Regions from separate parts of the Homo sapiens genome. Here regions 2 and 3 are each linked to region 1. Evidence: fine-mapped expression QTL. A gene starts in region 1. Each other region holds a variant in brackets. All regions are shown on one strand. Distances are from middle to middle.

Region 1 (5,682 bases):
TCTCCAACTCTAATTTCTAGGACTGAACATTTGCAAATCATCTCTCTCCTTTCTTTCACCATTGCAAAAATCTTTCTAGAACTGGCAAGTCAGGAAAGATATTTTTCATTCAGTTTCAAAATTATTTCTAATGCTTTGGCATTACACTTCTCAAGTGACTCTAGGGATTACATTTCAACTCCCTTCTTACACAAATTAAGGAAAGTGATATTCAGAGAGATTATATGACATGTTCAAGATTACACAGCAAGTTGGGCAGAGCAAGCATTAGAAGTTAGGTCTCTGGATTTCTATTTCAGGTTCTTTCCATTCATGGTGGAATTCTGAGCACCTGGCTCTCCTGGTCCTTTAAATATCAGACATTTGCCCAAGTGTGAATATCCAAAACAACAGACTGTCCTCAGAAAGGCAGCCTATTCACCCTCCAGGAGGCTGAGAGAGGGGCATGATTACATCATCCACGATGGCTCCTTCCTGCTCCTGGGGAAATGGCACAACACAGAGTACACACACTGAACTCCACTTATGTCCCAGTCACAGCATCTTCACATACACCCAGGATGGATATCTTGTGGTCCACAAGCAATGTCAGCCACCTACGACAGCCCTACCTTTTTAGGAACTTGTCTGAGCCACCTACCACAACTACTAGCACTGATGGGATCACTGATAAAAACCAGTATTCTGATGGGATCACTGATAAAAGCCAACGTCCACTGCATACTCACCTGGATTTCCCTTCCAAGAGGTAGCAGTCTGTCTGACACAAACTCTGTCCCTTCGCATACCAGAAAGAAATGTTTGGGGACCTTGGCGTTCTAGGTATGACACCTTAGCATGCCAGCTGCTTCTAAGAACAAACGCACTATCATATGGGACCATGCATTTTGAAACCATCTCACTCAAATCTGATGCCAAACCAACTGTTTTCATCATGCCTATTTTCTTTTTCACCATAGCAATTTTTATATGTTTTATTGTACTTTCATCAAAGCACCATCTTCTGGTTGAAATGATCAACAGAGACCCCAACTTCTTCCAGCACCCCACTTTGTGAAAACAGCATTGTAGTACTTGAGTATTTATGATTCTTTGAGGTTTTGAATTAACCCAGATAACTTGTTTGGTCACTGACCACCAGTGATCCCTTTCAATATGCTTCTAGGAAGAGTGACAAAAGAGACTAAACATGCCTTTGGCAAAAATTAGGACTTTCTAGAAAGTTCTTATTACTGTGATCCTTGGCTTCCCTCAAAGTTGTTTTAATTCACTGGAGAAGGATCACCTTTACCAAGAAACAGATTGTGTGGTGAAAAGAAATATGGGCTGTGGAACCAAAGCAATGAGTTTGGTGCTACCACTTACTTATAAACTCCGGCAAGTATTTAACCTCAGAGCCTTGGTTCCTGGTTCATAAAATGAGAATAATAATATCTGCAAGCAGTAATGAATTGAAAAATCCCTCATAGAATTTTTGGGTCAGAATAAATGCCCATACACAGCTATAGTGACGTGGGCATTTTAGGAAGAAGAATTTCTGTGGGTGTTAATCTTATGGAAAGGCAATCCAGTATCACATTTAGCTTAAACGCTATATTCATTACACTCAGTGTACACACTTTCAACATTCTTATCCCCAGTAGCTGCTCACATTGACTGTTTCCTACTGAGCCCTCTCTGAGAATAGCAGAGCTCTATTTGTAGAGAAGGCTCCTGGCATTTTTGGTACCCTTTCAATCCCATAGCTATTCATCACAGTAAAGACACTACCACCAATGGTCAGCAGATGTGGGATTGAAAGCAATCAAGAGTTTCCTTTGGAAATAGCCCTGCAGACATTACATTTCCAGGTACAAAGCTTAAGGAAAAGTCTGCCTTGGCAGCTTGTCTGGCACAGGCTTCATCTTTGGTAAACAAAACATGACTATACCACCTTTGTTTTGTTAGAAAACTTGGAAGCTGTATTTCCAAGCCAACTGGATCTTTGGTCTTTCCTCAAAGACAAGGGGCCCTGGCTCTTAAAGACTTGCTGGTAGGCCCTGTGCTGTTCCTGAATTTTATCAACTAAACTCATCTTTAGGAAATGGAACATGGATGCAGAATGCAACTGGTTCTGCCTGTCAGAAAAGAAGCAAGCATTCAAATATCCAACAGAGGTTGCCAAAACATCTGAAAAGATGTTCTAATAACCACAAAGTTGAAAATAGCATGACATCTTCTGGAGTCAGGAGGTGACTTCAGAGGGAGATCCATGAAACAAATTAGATGGTTAAGATACTAGGCCCTGGAGGGGGCAGGGAGAAAGGGTTATTTTCTGCCCCAAATTAAAAATCAGGAACATAGAACACCGTGGCGCCATCTCACCTAGCTATGCTATAGGTTCTGGGATAAGATATTGCCCTCAGCAAGAATGACTTGGAGCTGGAATAAACTTTTTACCAGTGAAAGCGCTAATTCTAAGTAGACTCAAGGAAACCCTGAAAATAGCAGGCAAATCTCCTGTGACTTCCCCCTCTTTTAAACGTTGAAAAACATGACTTAGCATACTTATCTCCCATTATGATGTTTCATTCCAGAAATACAAACTAAGAAAACACTGTGTTTTAACCATAAGGAATTCTTGAAATTTCTCAAATCTTCATCCCAAGTGTTGTCATTTAAAAACAAACAAACAAACAGAATCCCCCAGAAGTTACTAGTAGTACCTGGTGGAAATTGTCAAACACCTGGTTGTGTATATGTCCCTTCACAGGCAAGGCTATTAATAGGTGGCTCAACAAATACATGGAGCTATGAATATCTCTTCCAGATTACACACCCATCCATACTAGGGCTCTTCAAGCAAAAAACAAAACACCTTCTCTTGGTCTAGATCAACTCACCCCCATTGTAAGTACCCAAGAAATACAACCTTCCCCACACAAAGTCAAAAAGAGGCCAAACCTGGGAGTCAATGAGGACCCTAAGTTCACTCACTTGTCTTCTGTGAAACTTTTCCCAGTAATAACATTCTTCCCTTGGGGTACATAGTTCCAGTATTCTTCCACAATCCCAATGTAGTACGTTCTGGTAACTGTGCCAACCAGCCCAGACAGACCCAGGAATGTGAGGAGAAAGATGCAGCCAGCTGGCTGCTTCCGAGGCATTTGTGGATGTAACTCAAGCAGGCAGGCAGCCTGCACAGGGGACAAATCTGTTGGTCCCTCCCCCTCACTCAGCTCCTCCTCCTCAGGTAGCTTGGGTTTGGGGAAGAGGCAAAGGCTGAGGCCTTGCGTAAGCAAAGCAAGCTCGATGGGGGCGTTGCTTTGACAACAAAACTTTTGCCAGCCATCCGAGAAATGTGTGACTGGCTCATTTATGTATTGCCCAAGCCAACAGGCCTGTTTCTATACGTTTCGGTACCATGCTCTGACATCAGTCATTTGTCAGCCAGGATGACAGTGTGACTACTTGAGCCGATGGCTTTCCCCCACCCCTTCTTCTTCTTTTCTTCTCCACACCTCTTACATTAAAATCTGAAAAGTGAGCTGGCCTGAGTGGAGCATCAGGAAACACTCCAGGCACTAAAGAAGGCCTCCTCTCTGTCGGGAGGGCAGAGGAAGTGACATAATCACCATCCAGCTTGTTTTATGAGGCTATGTGAAACCACAAACTAACATCATAAAGTTCATCACAACAACATAAAACCCCACTAATCCTCCACTGGCTCGTGTACCATCTCCCCCATATTCTCTCAAATCCTTCCAGCAAAAATGAGAAGGTTGACTGCTCAGTTCAGCCAAAATGTTCGCGGCCACCACCTCCACACAGGGAGCCGCCTTTCTTAGGATGAATGAAAATGATGATGGGGAAGTACCCTTCAGACACATGGAGACAAAATTCAGTAACAGGTCTTTGGGTGGAAAAGGCTGGGCCATTCTTCTGTGTCTTCTAATCTGTGTCCCAGAATCTCGGTATTGAAAGAGACCTTGATCAACCTTGGAAAAGAGTTACTCTTATCCCCATGCACAGTTACTCTTGAGGGAGCAGCCATGGAATGAAGGAAACAGCCTCCTGGCCTTTGAAGTTGGTCAGACCTGGGTTTGAATGTGAGTTCCCACCACTTTCCAATTTAGTGGCATGGAGGAATCACTTAACATCATTGAGCTGGAGACTATAGAAGAAGGATTGAGGGATTCTTAAGGAACTTTTTAAAAGATGATGTCTGCAAAGTGCTTACCCCAGCCCCTAGCATAGGGTAGGTACTAAGTAAGTGTTAAAGTCCTTCCTGCCCATTCATGCCCTCTAAGAGAGACTGTATCAACCTGTGTATCCACAGACTTGTGTTTCCCCGCAGTCTTCAACTTTCTTTCCACTATTCTTTGCCAAAGTCCTATCTGCCATGCCTTCCACCAGTCTCAAGTAAGAGAATTCTTTTTCTTTAAATGGTAGCTACCCTATAAATGTCCCATAGCACAGTTTGTATTAGCATTCATCTTAATTAATAAAAGGCCAGGCACGGTGGCTCAGGTCTGTAATCCCAGCAATTTGGGAGGCCAAGGCAGTCAGATCACCTGTGGTCACGAGTTTGAGACCAGCCTGGCCAACATGGTGAAACCCTGTCTGTACTAAAAATACAAAAATTAGCCGGGCGTAGTGGCAGGCGCCTGTAATCCCAGTTACTTGGGAGGCTTAGGCAGAAGAATCGCTTGAACCTGGGAGGTGGAGGTTGCAGTGAGCCAAGATTGTGCCACTGCACTCCAGCCTGGGCAACAAGAGCAAGATTCCTTCTCAAAATAAGTAAATAAATAAATAAATAAATAATAAAATACATACTGAGTATCCTGTTTCATAGCCAGGCTCTTTACAACTTTGATTTACTGATTTGTTTGTTGTATCAAGGACACTGGTAGAATAATTGCCACAGCACATTTCCATTTAGCTAAAATCTCCTCTTCAACATGAGTTTGGGAGCTTCGTATGAGTCTGGCACTTCAACGGACACTATAGAGGAGGACTTACGTGGTAGGCCTGAGGTTGGCCTCAGAAGAAGTAGGGAGTTCAAAGTATGGGGAATCTGGCCAGGCGCAGTGGCTAATGCCTATAATCTCAGCACTTTGGGAGGCCGAGGTGGGTGGATCACCTGAGGTCAGGAGTTCGAGACCAGCCTGCCGAATATGGTGAAACCCTGTCTCTACTAAAAATACAAAAATAACCCGGGCATGTTGGTGCATGCCTGTAGTCCCAGCTACTAGGGAGGCTGGGGCAGGAGAATCTCTTGAACCCTGGAGGCAAAGGTTGCAGTGAGCCAAGATCTCACAACTGCACTCTAGCCTGGATGATAGAGCGAGACTCTGTCTCACAAAAAAAAAAAAAAAAAAAAAAAAAAAAAAAAAAAAGGTTGTGGAATTTGGAAATGTCCCAAACCAAATATCTTGTTGCTTACATCCCAGAGAAGCTGGCTATTTTGGGCGTATCAAAGACGTTATTAGGACATATTCCCCCCTTTTTGGACAGGAGAAAAAAAAAGGTATAAGTGATACAGCTCAAAAAGACAAAAGAGTTAACTTTCTTACCCAAGATACTGAACGCATATAATTAAAACCCAGGAGAAGGCATTACCTAACTTCTGATTCAAAAACTAGATCTGCAGAATAGATCAGGTCAAGAAATCTGAGTCACTATAGCAGATGAAGTCAACGC
Region 2 (5,682 bases), 61 kb before region 1:
ATCAGACATGCTTTTACTGATTACATGGATTCAGCATTATTTGAAAGATTTTTAAATCAATTGACAGTATATGTGCATATGCAGTTAGTGGAGAAGGATTGTTTTTTAGGGGGTACTTAAGCTTATATGAGGTTAGTCTTTGAGTAAATAAATTTGCTTTATGATAACTCGTACTTCCTTACCCCAGTACAATTACTGGAGGGACTTTATTAATAAATAATGATTAGTTAGATATGAAGACCCTCTGTGCTTCCAGAGTGGCAAATTGTTTTTATCTTTGACATCAACCCCAATCCATTGATAGTGGCTATCTGAAAAAGTGCCTTGACAAGAATTTAGAAACCGCATTCTCACCCCATGGGGATGAAAGCCATGATATAACGCAATGTCTGACTGGTAAATGCACATAATTGTGTCTCATGCTTGATGTTTCTTGGAGAAATAAATATTTCTACCCCCCTCCTGCTCTCTACTAAGCCTATAGCAGGAAGGAACTATTATCATGCACATGAGTGACCTTCTGTTATAATCCCATTGTCAAATAAAATTACTTTTTGTTAGGTTGGTGCAAAAGTGATTGCAGTTTTTGCCATTGAAAGTAATTGCAAAAACCGCAATTACTTTTGTACTATCCTAATATTTCTGTGTCTGCAAAACCAGTGGTGCTTGGTAATTGTACTCAGATCTGGGATTATTGGTAGAAATTCCAAGAAATTCTGGCACTTCTGAGAAGGACACCACATTTTATGAAAAAAAAATCTTTGATAATGTCTTTGCAAATAAATGATCTAAATCTTGTCCATCAAATGTTAATGAAATCTGAGTATAAATCAAGGTGCTAATAAATTCAGTCCTTGGCTGGCTGGTAGAGAATCTTCTCTTGCCTTGGAATGCTTGTTTAAAGCCTCTCTTTCTACAACAGTCACTCATCCATTCTTTCTTTCAATAAACATATTTTGAATACAGACTATATAATAAACACAACACAAAGCATTGTGCACCATGTCAGGCCCTTTCTTTTTGGCTTTGTTGCTGTCTTCCTTCCACTCCCTGCAAGCAAGACTGAAGCTAGAACTTAGTTTATAATTAATGTGACATTTGAATTAAGATGCATTATTTGCCTTGAACTTTGTTTTAACAATGATATATCCTGTATTTATATATTTATTTATTTATTTATTTATTTATTTATTTATTTATTTAAACAGAGAGAGGGTCTTACCCTGTTGCCCAGGCTGGAGTGCAGTGGAGCCATTATGCTTACTTCAGCCTCAACCTCCCGGGCTGAAGAGATCCTCCTACCTCCTACCTCAGCCTCCTGAGTAGCAGCTGGGACTACAGGTGCACACCACCATACCTGGCTAATTTTGTATTTTCTGTAGAGATGGGGTCTCACTAAGTTGCCCAGGCTGGTCTTGAACTCCTGGATGCAAGTGATCCTCCCACCTTGACCTCCCAAAGTGCTGGGATTACAGGCATGAGCCACAGTGCCTGGACTATATATTGTATTTCTAAATATGAAAGTAGTTTCACATTGCCAAAATAGGGTGGGGCTGGATTTGATGTAGTTCATTCAGTTGTTTATTATCTTTTTAAATGAAGACCAACCTCTTTGATGATAAATTTCTTTTACAATTTAGTTTCTCCACCAAGAAACTGCTATATTTCCTTATTTCCACCTTAATTTCCCCTTTATATTGTCTACTAAGAAGTTTGGAAACAATATTCATATTCAGTTACAGCAAAACCTTTTGTAGAAGATGACACTGAAATGTACTACTCCATGCTTTCCATTGGCACAAGAGGGGACTCTGTTGGAAATGAGCATCTGGGACCATAGGGTCTGTGACCTGGTTGCCATGGGGCACTTGTAACCTTGGACTATTTTTTACTTCCATGCAAGGAAGGGAGGTTAAGGGCTATTTTGTTATTCTTCCATAATGCTTTAAAAGGCAATAAATAGATTTTATGCTGGGTCCTAAAACAAGCAGGTTAGCACCTGTTGTCTTACGTTACTTGCTTCGGGCACTTTTATTGACTGCACACTCTTGCAGGCATTGAGTTTGGACTCTCATTACTCTGCTACCTTAGGTAATATGCCTAAGAGTAATGACATCCTGTGTTACTCACAAGCAATTAGCAGGTGGTTTGCTATTGTAACACTTGATACAAAGAGACAGGGAGAGAGAATTAAGTAATTCCTCTCAAATGAAGATCTGGGATAGGAACAGCTAGTGTTTCACAAATTAACATTCACCAGTCACTCATACTACTTAATTAAATCATTCATACTACTTAATTATAGACACTTTGCTATGTAATGATTATCTCCTATTGTCACTTTGGTTTTCAGACTTAATGTTATTGTGAACCCAAGGGAGAGTAGTTTGTCAGTAATTTTCTACATTTATGATATACTGTGAACTTGGCTAGTTTAAATTTTTTTTTTTTTTTTTAGACGGAGTCTCACTCTGTCGCCCAGGCTGTGCAGTGGCACGAACTTGGCTCACTGCAACCTCCACCTCCGGGTTCAAGCAATTCTCCTGCCTCAGCCTCCTGAGTAGCTGGGAATATAGGCACGCACCACCATGCCCAGCTAAGTTTTGTATTTTTAGTAGAGAC[G/A]GGGTTTCACCATATTGGCCAGGCTGGTCTCCTGACCTCGTGATCTGCCCACCTCAGCCTCCCAAAGTGCTGGGATTACAGGTGTTAGCCACTGTGCCTGGCCGCTAGTTTAAAATTTGTGTTCCTTCATCTAAGGCTGATAAAGTGCTCTAGAAGTATTAAATTTCACATCTCTGAGAGATAGGGAGGTTTCACCATACCATCTAAAGCTGAAGGCATGAAATAACTTACTCATGACCAAGAACAATATCCAAGAAACCAAAATTAATATAATTCAAACACACCAATCATTTTCACTTCTAATGCAAGTCAGCCTTTCATTTACAGGCGGGAATGTCATTTGTCATACCATGCATTCGGTTGGATTTCACAAACTCTTTATCTTCTTTGTCAATGCTGAAGGGATGCCAGATAAACTTCTGAATGTTTTCATCAAAATATCTGCTCAGATTCTCATCAAAGACTGTGAACAGTAGGTAAAACTCCTTGTCTATTCCTTTCTACAGAGAAGAAAGAAATGAATACATAAAAGGTACAGCTTGGAGGAATTCACAGAATTGCTTTCCTTCAAAGTTCACACAAAATATTAATAAGTCAGGGCAGATCAACATCAGCCCAAGAGTTCGCAGGTCATTTTTAAATAAAGATACTGAATGTTGCTCTGATGAATTTATTCCCCACTCAGAAAATTTGTCTTTCTTGTTACATCCGTCCTCCAAGGAAATCAGCCCCTGCTTAGAAGGCTTTCTACTCTTTTGGCCTCTGTTGCCAGGCTGGTCCTCAAGGACTTTTTCTCCTTACCCTGACCTGCCAGCCCTGGCCCAGCTTCTCTCTCTGACTTCATTTCCCTGTACTCACCTCCTAGCTTGCTCCAGACACCCTGGCCTTTTGCCCTTCCACGAACACACCAACCTCATTCCTGCCTCAGGGTCTTTCCATGTGTTGTGGAACATGAATTGAAGAACTCCCTTCCTCAATTCACTTTTCTGCATGTCATTTCCTCAGAGTGGTCTTCCCTAACCATCCTTCTAAACTTATCTCCATCTTCTGCCCAGAAACTCACTCACTTTACCCTATTTTATTCTTCACAGCACTTATCTCCACCTGAAACTATTTTATTTATGAAGTTATTTTTTTTAACTTTTTCCTACTGCAATGTGAGTTTCATGAGGATAGGAACACTTTGGATTCCTCTCTGTACCTGCATCACCAAGAAAAATGCCTGGAAAAGCAGGCATCAAGTATACATTTTTGAGTGAAATAATGAATTCATATAACTGACGAGACTTAGCTAAATTATGTTAACTTGAGTGGATAGTGAGGGGACAATGGATATGACTTCCCACAGCATGTATTCCTAATCAGTCTATTTGAGCCTATCTGATCACACAGCATCACAGATCGCTGCAGTATGCTTTCCTTTAGAACTGACCAGAGAGATGACTATGTTTTCTTTTCAATTTAATTTAAAATTTTGGGATACAGGTGCAGTCTGCGCAGATTTGTTACATAGGTAAACATGTGCCATGGTGGTTTGCTACACCTATCAACCTGTCACCTAGGTATTAAGCACAGCATGCATTAGCTATTTATCTTGATGCTCTTCCTCCCTCCACCCCTACCACCACAAGCCGCAGTGTGTGTTGTTCCCCTCCCTGTGTCCATGTGTTCTCATTGTTCAGCTCCCACTTATAAGTGAGAACATGCATTGTTTGGTTTCCTGTTCCTGCTTTAGTTTGCCGAAGATAATGGCTTCAAGTGCCATCCATGTCCCTGCAAAGGACATGATCTCATTCGTTTTTATGGCTGCATGATATTCCATGGTGTACGTGTACCACAATTTGTTTATCCAGCCTGTCAAAAGACATGGGCTTTTCAGTTGATTCCATGTCTTTGCTGTTGTGAGTAGTGCTGCAATGAACACATACATGCATGTATCTTTGTGATAGAATGATTTATATTCCTTTTGGTATATGCCCAGTAATGGAACTGCTGGGTCAAATGGTATTTCTGGTTCTAGGTCTTTGAGGAATCACCATACTGTCTTCCACAATGGTTGAACTAATTTACATTCCCACCAACAGTGTAAAAGTGTTCCTATTTCTCCACAGCCTTGCCAGCATCTGCCATTTCTCGACTTTTTAATAATTGCCATTCTGAATAGCGTGAGATGGTATCTCATTGTGGTTTTCATTTGCATTTCTCTAATGATCAGTTAAGTTGAGCTTCTTTTCATAGGTTTATTGGCTGCATAGATGTCTTCTTTTGAGAAGTGTCTGTTCACGTCTTTTGCCCACTTTTTAATGAGTTTTTCTTCTTTTAAATTTGTTTAAGTTCCTTGTAGATTCTGGATATTAGACCTTCATCAGATGGATAGATTGCAAAGATGTCCTCCAACTCTCCAGGTTGTCTGTTCACTCTGATGATGGTTTATTTTGCTGTGCAGAAGCTCTTTAGTTTAATTAGAACCCATTTGTCACACTTTGCTTTTGTTGCAATTGCTTTTGACATTTTCATCATGAAATCTTTGCCTGTGCCTATGGCCTGAATGGTATTGCCTAGATTTTCTTCTAGGGTTTTTATAGTTTTGGGTTTTACACATAAGTCTTTAATCCATCTTGAGTTAATTTTTGTATAAGGTGTAAGGAAGGGGGTCCAGTTTCAATTTTCTGCATATGGCTAGCCAGTTCTCCCAGCATCACTTATTAAATAGGGAATCCTTTCCCCACTGTTTGTTTTTGTCAGGTTTGTCAAAGATCAGATGGTTGTAGATGTGCTGTCTTATTTCTGAGTTCTCTATTTTGCTCAATTGCTCTATGTGTCTGACTTTGTATCAGTACAATGCTGTTTTGGTTACTGTAGCCTTGTTGTATAGTTTGAAGTCGGGTAGTATGATGCTTCTAGCTTTGTTCCTTTTGCTTAGGATTGCCTTGGCTATATGGGCTCCTTTTTGGTTCCATATGAATTTTAAAGTTGTTGTTTCTAATTCTGTGAAGAATGGAGGTGACCATCCTTTCTATCCCTCAATGCTTTCCTGTCTCTAACATGCTCCCCACCCAA
Region 3 (5,682 bases), 120 kb before region 1:
GTGTTTAAATTCAGTACTGAAACAAAGATTAGTGACTCTGGCAACATGAAAAGGACTTACAATGACTGTTACTATTATGTAGACAACTGGTCATGAGATCTCTTTGCAAACAAGGGCATTCTAAATAGACAAAAACTCATGACAGATGCAGATGCTAGAGTGGCAAACACTTTTTCAAGGAACCTCAAAAAAGAAAAGGGACATCCACACTTTTTCATCAGAGCTGGGTATTTAATGCCACATGGCCTTTATACCAGGAGCACGCCCTCCCCAGGGCTCCATTCTTCCCGTTTCTACACGGGGCAACAGAGCACAGGTATTCTCCCTAAGGCACTCAGCTCAACTGTGTGGCGCTTAACCCAAAAAGCATTCACTGGGCTATTATGTACATGGTACCATATGCAATGCAAGGGATTCAAAGATAAAGAAGACTTGGTCTCAGCCCTCCAAGGGCTTACAGTCCAGTGGAGGCAGCCAAGGATATAAACCACCAATTATTGTAGATGAAAACAAATCACATAAGGGTAATGACTGAACCATGACAAATGTTCGTACTCAAAGGAGGAGAGAAGGGAACCTAGGCTTGGAAAACAGCGCAAGAAAACACTGAGTCCTTAAAGCTGACAGCCCATTTAAGACAGGAAGCAGACCACTGTGTCTGGAGCACACAGTCAAGCTGGGGTCAGATAAAGGACATCCTGGGGTGACAGACTGGGAAGTCCAGACTTAAATTTATGAGTAAAGGCAAGGAGGGCTTGGTAGGTGAGGGTGAGGAGCTGTGTTTTGTGTTTTCAAGTCCCCAGTGGTACTATAATCCATACACCCATGTTCCTAATGACCAGCTGAGGCTGCAGTGCTGAACTGAGGGTGAGGTTGGTGGTGGCGCTTAACAGACTAGGCACCCTCCCCAGCAGGAATCCAAGGGGTAGGGAAGATAATCCTAGGGCAGCAGAGCCGGAGACCCAGCACAAACCAGCAGCTTCTGAGCTGGGCTGTGAGCTTGCCCCACGCAGTCCTGTGTCCCGCAGACACACGACAGGAAGGGGCAGAGAGCACACAGCAGTGCCTGAGAACCCAGGCTCTGGAAAGAGCAATGCACTCTAGCCCCACTCTGTGTGCCCCAGACACATTCCCCAACCCCAGCAGCCCCAGGTCGTCACCTGTCAAAGGGCCAAAACAGGATTAGGGGATGTTTAGCAGCTAACCTGCGCTGAGTGCTTCCTACGTACCAGACACCGTTCCAGTGCTTCGAGCGCTAATTTATTTAATTCTCACCCTGTGACACAGGTGAGAATTCTATTACTGCCCCATTTACTGACAAGGAGGCTAGGCACTGAGAAATTCTGTAACTTGTCCAAGGTCTCACAGTCAATGTGTGCCATGCCAGAATTGGAACCCAGGAAGTCTGGCTTTATAACTCATGCCTTAATCATTATTCACATTTCCTAATAAATAATATTTGCTAGTTGACTAAATGTAAACAGGAAACAGAGGGCTCAGAAGTGAAACAACTAGGGTTTTTTGAAAAAAACATTTTAGCTTAAAAAAATTAATTAAAAAATAGTTAAGATGGATTTCAGAAGGAAGGGGTATTTCATAAGCCAAGGAAAACAAGCGGAGACCTGTCAGTCTCTCTAGGATCAAACATCCCAGGCCAAAGAAAAAGGTGGGCACTGGGGAGGGAGGGGGCAGTCACCAGACACCGCCAAGTGTCACAGTGAGCCCAGAAATGTGTGTCTCATGAAATCCCAGTGTAAATAGGGAACTACAAGCTAAAACAATGAGATGGCATTTTAACCATTAAGATTGGCAAATTTAAAACTCTGAAAGTATTAAACATTGGTAAAGAAGTAGGGCGGGGTTGGCCTATATTGGTGATGGGAGTGTAAACTGGTATTCTGGAAGGCAGTTGAAAGTGTCTTTTAAATTTAAAATGTGCACAACTTTTGTCCCTCTGATTTCAAACCCCACTAGAACAACGGTTCTCAAAATGTGGTCTGGAAACCCTGAAACCTGAGACCTTTTCAGGAGGTTCACGACATTAAAACTATGTTCACGATACTACGTTGTTACTTACCTTTCTACTCTCGTTCTCTCATGAGTGTATGCAGTGCAGTTTTGGGGGCTACTGATGTGGGATATTACAACATAATGAATGAGAATCCAGAATCCAGTCATCTACTATGAAATGAAATATTAAGTAGATTTTCAAAAATAGAAAATAATGCTATTCTTATTACTAAGTTTTTGTTTTATAATTATTTTTCATAAAAATATGTTATACCTGAACATGTAATGGGTTTACTTTAAATCAATTAATAAATATTTTTAA[G/A]TCTGTCAGTTTTAATTTCTAATATGATAAATACCAATAGACAACAAAATCTCTTTGGAATTCTCAAGAAATTTTAAGGGTGTAAAGGGGTCCTAAGACCAAAATGTTTGAGAACCACGGCTCTAGAGAAACACATTCTGCACAAAGAAGCACATGCAAGGATGTTCATTAAACCACTGTTTGTAGTAGGAAAAAGTGGAATGAACATACTAGCCCATAAACAGACGGTTAAATGAATTGAGGTATAGTCACATGATGGAAAATTGTGGCACATTTAAAAAGATGAGGCAGATCTGCATGCACTAACATGAAGATATCTCTGGGACATATTAAAGATAAATGAGCAAACTGCAAAAAAATGAGCACTGTAAAAGAATATGCACTAAACAGGAACAGTAGTTACCTCTGGGGAAGAAACTGAGATTGAGGTGTGTCCATAAAAAAGGGCAGGGCTTTAATGTTTCCTCTTACTGTCTGAACTTCGACATATATAGACATTTGGCAAATTAAAATTAACCTGGAAAACTCCCTCCACTGCCACACCAGCAGTAAGGTGAGGGGACCTCCTGGGGCTGATGCAGTGAGCACCCCAGGACAGCCATGGGGTACCCATGAATGGGCCTGTCTCATTAGCTGAAGCACCAAGTCCATGTATAGCCTATTTATCCTTCATACTGAAATATTCACCACTTTCTGAACCGATCTGGAAGTTGTAATCTTTTTCAAAGCATTTCTACTCTATTTAGCCCATCCATTATTTATTACAGCTTCCCACAATTACAAGAACAGCAGTAATAGAACTTCTGACCAACCAGCTATAAATTGAGGATTCCTACAACCCCTTCCTATGGTTCATTCATTTGCTAGAGTGACTTACAAACTAAGGCAAACCCTTTACTTACTATTGGCAATTTACGAAAAAGGATCTTTTAAAGGATACAAATGAACAGACAGGTAAAGAGATACACAGAGCGAGGTTCAGAAGGGTCCTGAGTGAAGGAGCTTCTGTCCCCATGGAGTTGGGATGCACAACCCTCCCAGCGTGGATGTAACGTGGATGCCCTCGGAACCCTCTCCCTGGGTTTCTATGCAGGCATGGTTGATTAGATCATGAGCCACTAGTGATCAACTCAGGCTTCAGGCCCTCTCCCCTCCCGTGAGGTCAGGGGTTGGGGCTGAGAGTCTCAACCCTCTAATCACATAGTTGGTTCCCTTGGCAACAAGCCTGGCTCACAAGGCTATCCAGGAGACCACTGCCATCAGTGACCTCATCAGCAGAGTGCTGGGAAACCAAAGACCAAATAAATATTTATTATATATCAAAATAGTGTTCCTCATAACTACAATATTTTAAAAGGTCCAATAGTGAGATAGCCTGACAAGTTTCCAGTAAGGATCCTGCTGATAATGATGCTCTTCCTATAATTCAAGAGCCTTTTAAATATCTGATATATTATGAGAAATTAATCTGCTAAGGCGATGTGACAATTGGTGCCAAGCAAGTCACTCACTTAGATTGCTGAGCTTCAGTTTCCCTGTCATGATTCTAATATTTTATAACTTTAATTTACCTAGGTATCTACTCACATCTAAAAACAAGCCAGTATGAAAGCAGTGACAAAATGGATGGTCTGGTATTTTCATGAAAATTAATAGACCAGTGGAACAATATAAACAGCCCAAAAATAGGCTCACTTACTTGAGTTGACTATATGATTGGGAAATCATCAAGGATCAATGAATAACGAACGGGTTCCTCAATAAATGACAATGGGGGGATTATCAGCTAGAGTCTTGACTTATAGCACCAAAAGAACAAAACAGACTGTAGAGGTAAATGTTCAAATAAAATCATTAAAGATCATTTTAAAAAACTGATAGACCTAAGGATGGGCTATGACAGTCTAATCATAATGCAACTGAAGAAATAATTAAAAGATGGGTAGTTTTGATGACTTAAAATAACTTCTGCTTATCAAAACTTATACTGTAAAGGTTACTGAGGGATGGCTGTCAGGGGAAATGGGGATGGTTAATGGGCATAAAAATAGAATGAATAAGATCCAGTATTTGATGGCACAATAGAGTGACTGTAGTCAATAATAATTTAATTTTACATTTTAAGATAACTGAAAGAGTACAACTGGATTGTTTGTAACGAAGGATAAATACTTGAGGAGATGGATACCCAATTTCTCCTGATGTGATTATTACACATTGTATGCCTGTGTCAAAATATCTCACATACCCCATGAATATATACCTTTACATACCAACAAAAATTAAAAATTAAAAAACAAAAATGCTTAACATAAACAGAATTCAAAGGAAACGGACAACCGGAAAAGAAAATACAATAAAGGCTAGCTAGAAAATATTTGAAACATAGAAATAGTTAATAAAACCCATTGAGAAACCAACATCCCCTTGGAAAAATAAGCAAAAGATAAGAACAGACAATTCACAGAATTATATAAATGGAAAAAATACATACGAAAAAACATTCAATGCCGTAACTGAATAAATGCGACTTAAAACAATGGCACACCTTTGTTCACCTATTAAGCTGTGGACGATAATCCACTAACTTTTGCCAGCTGTGGGGAAAGCCACTCCTTCAGCTGCGGGGAGAAGTATCCATTGGGGGTCTATCCAGAGGGCAACCCAACCACACCAGTCAAATCTTAAAAATGTCTATGTATACTTTGACCTTGTAATTAGAATTATACAATCACTTGAAATACTGAGATCTTTAGAGAGGTGGTTTATTATGTACAGGAGTGTTCTTCACAATGCTATTTATATTACAAAACTTGTGAAACAGTTAAATTTTGACACGTGCACAACATTCCATGTCACTGCCAACAAAAAAAATCATGTACAACAATTTAGGAACATGGTAACATGGCCTTGACTTAGTGTTTGGTTTTTCAAGAATAGTAGTTATCCCTGGTAGTATTATAGATGTACTGCTATTTTCTCTTCTGTATTTTCCATATTTTCTACAGTAAGTTTTATCTTTATAATGATATAATATACATATATAAATATTTATATTTTAAAAAGGAGTGTGAGCTTTATAGAGAATTTATTAAAAAACAACAGCGTCCCCTCCCCACCACCCCTTTCACCCCCCACAGAACTAGGTGTGCCTGGTACCAAGCAGATGGTAGATTCTCTTTAGGCCCCCTTCTCCCCAAGTAACTAATGTCTCCCTGCTGCCCCCAGAAACCCCACAGCATGCAGCGGGGCCTGCCTCGCCCAGAGTTCCTAGCTTAGCCAGGGCAAATGCCCCCAAATTGCCTCCCTTTCTCCACTTTGGACCAAGCTCTCGCTGCCTCAGTTAGGGG

Which allele goes with the higher level. Alleles are on the strand shown, and positions count from the first base shown. SD is a standard deviation of normalised expression in the study named. Not every link is listed here.
With allele A in place of G in region 3, the expression in kidney cortex of the gene that starts at base 3,161 in region 1 is higher (large effect, 1.0 SD a copy in GTEx).

What was found. PIP is the estimated chance that this variant, and not a neighbour inherited with it, causes the effect. A credible set is the group of variants that fine-mapping cannot tell apart.
Region 2: its variant is the best candidate, but not a certain one, in a credible set for the expression of HEPHL1 in sigmoid colon (GTEx, PIP 0.76).
Region 3: its variant is the best candidate, but not a certain one, in a credible set for the expression of HEPHL1 in kidney cortex (GTEx, PIP 0.52).

What each region holds. Positions count from the first base shown.
Region 1 is chr11:94,018,833-94,024,514 of GRCh38, reverse strand. HEPHL1 (hephaestin like 1) reads right to left here and starts at 3,161. Exons shown (of 20, transcript NM_001098672.2): 1 at 2,977-3,161. The coding sequence starts at 3,146.
Region 2 is chr11:94,079,858-94,085,539 of GRCh38, reverse strand. It overlaps HEPHL1 (hephaestin like 1), which reads right to left. Exons shown (of 20, transcript NM_001098672.2): 10 at 2,972-3,122. Among named protein-coding and RNA genes, the nearest start is that of PANX1, 46 kb to the left of the region's middle. The variant G/A (reference allele first, on the strand shown) is at 2,623.
Region 3 is chr11:94,137,451-94,143,132 of GRCh38, reverse strand. All of the region lies in intron 1 of PANX1 (pannexin 1), which reads right to left. Among named protein-coding and RNA genes, the nearest start is that of PANX1, 11 kb to the right of the region's middle. The variant G/A (reference allele first, on the strand shown) is at 2,333.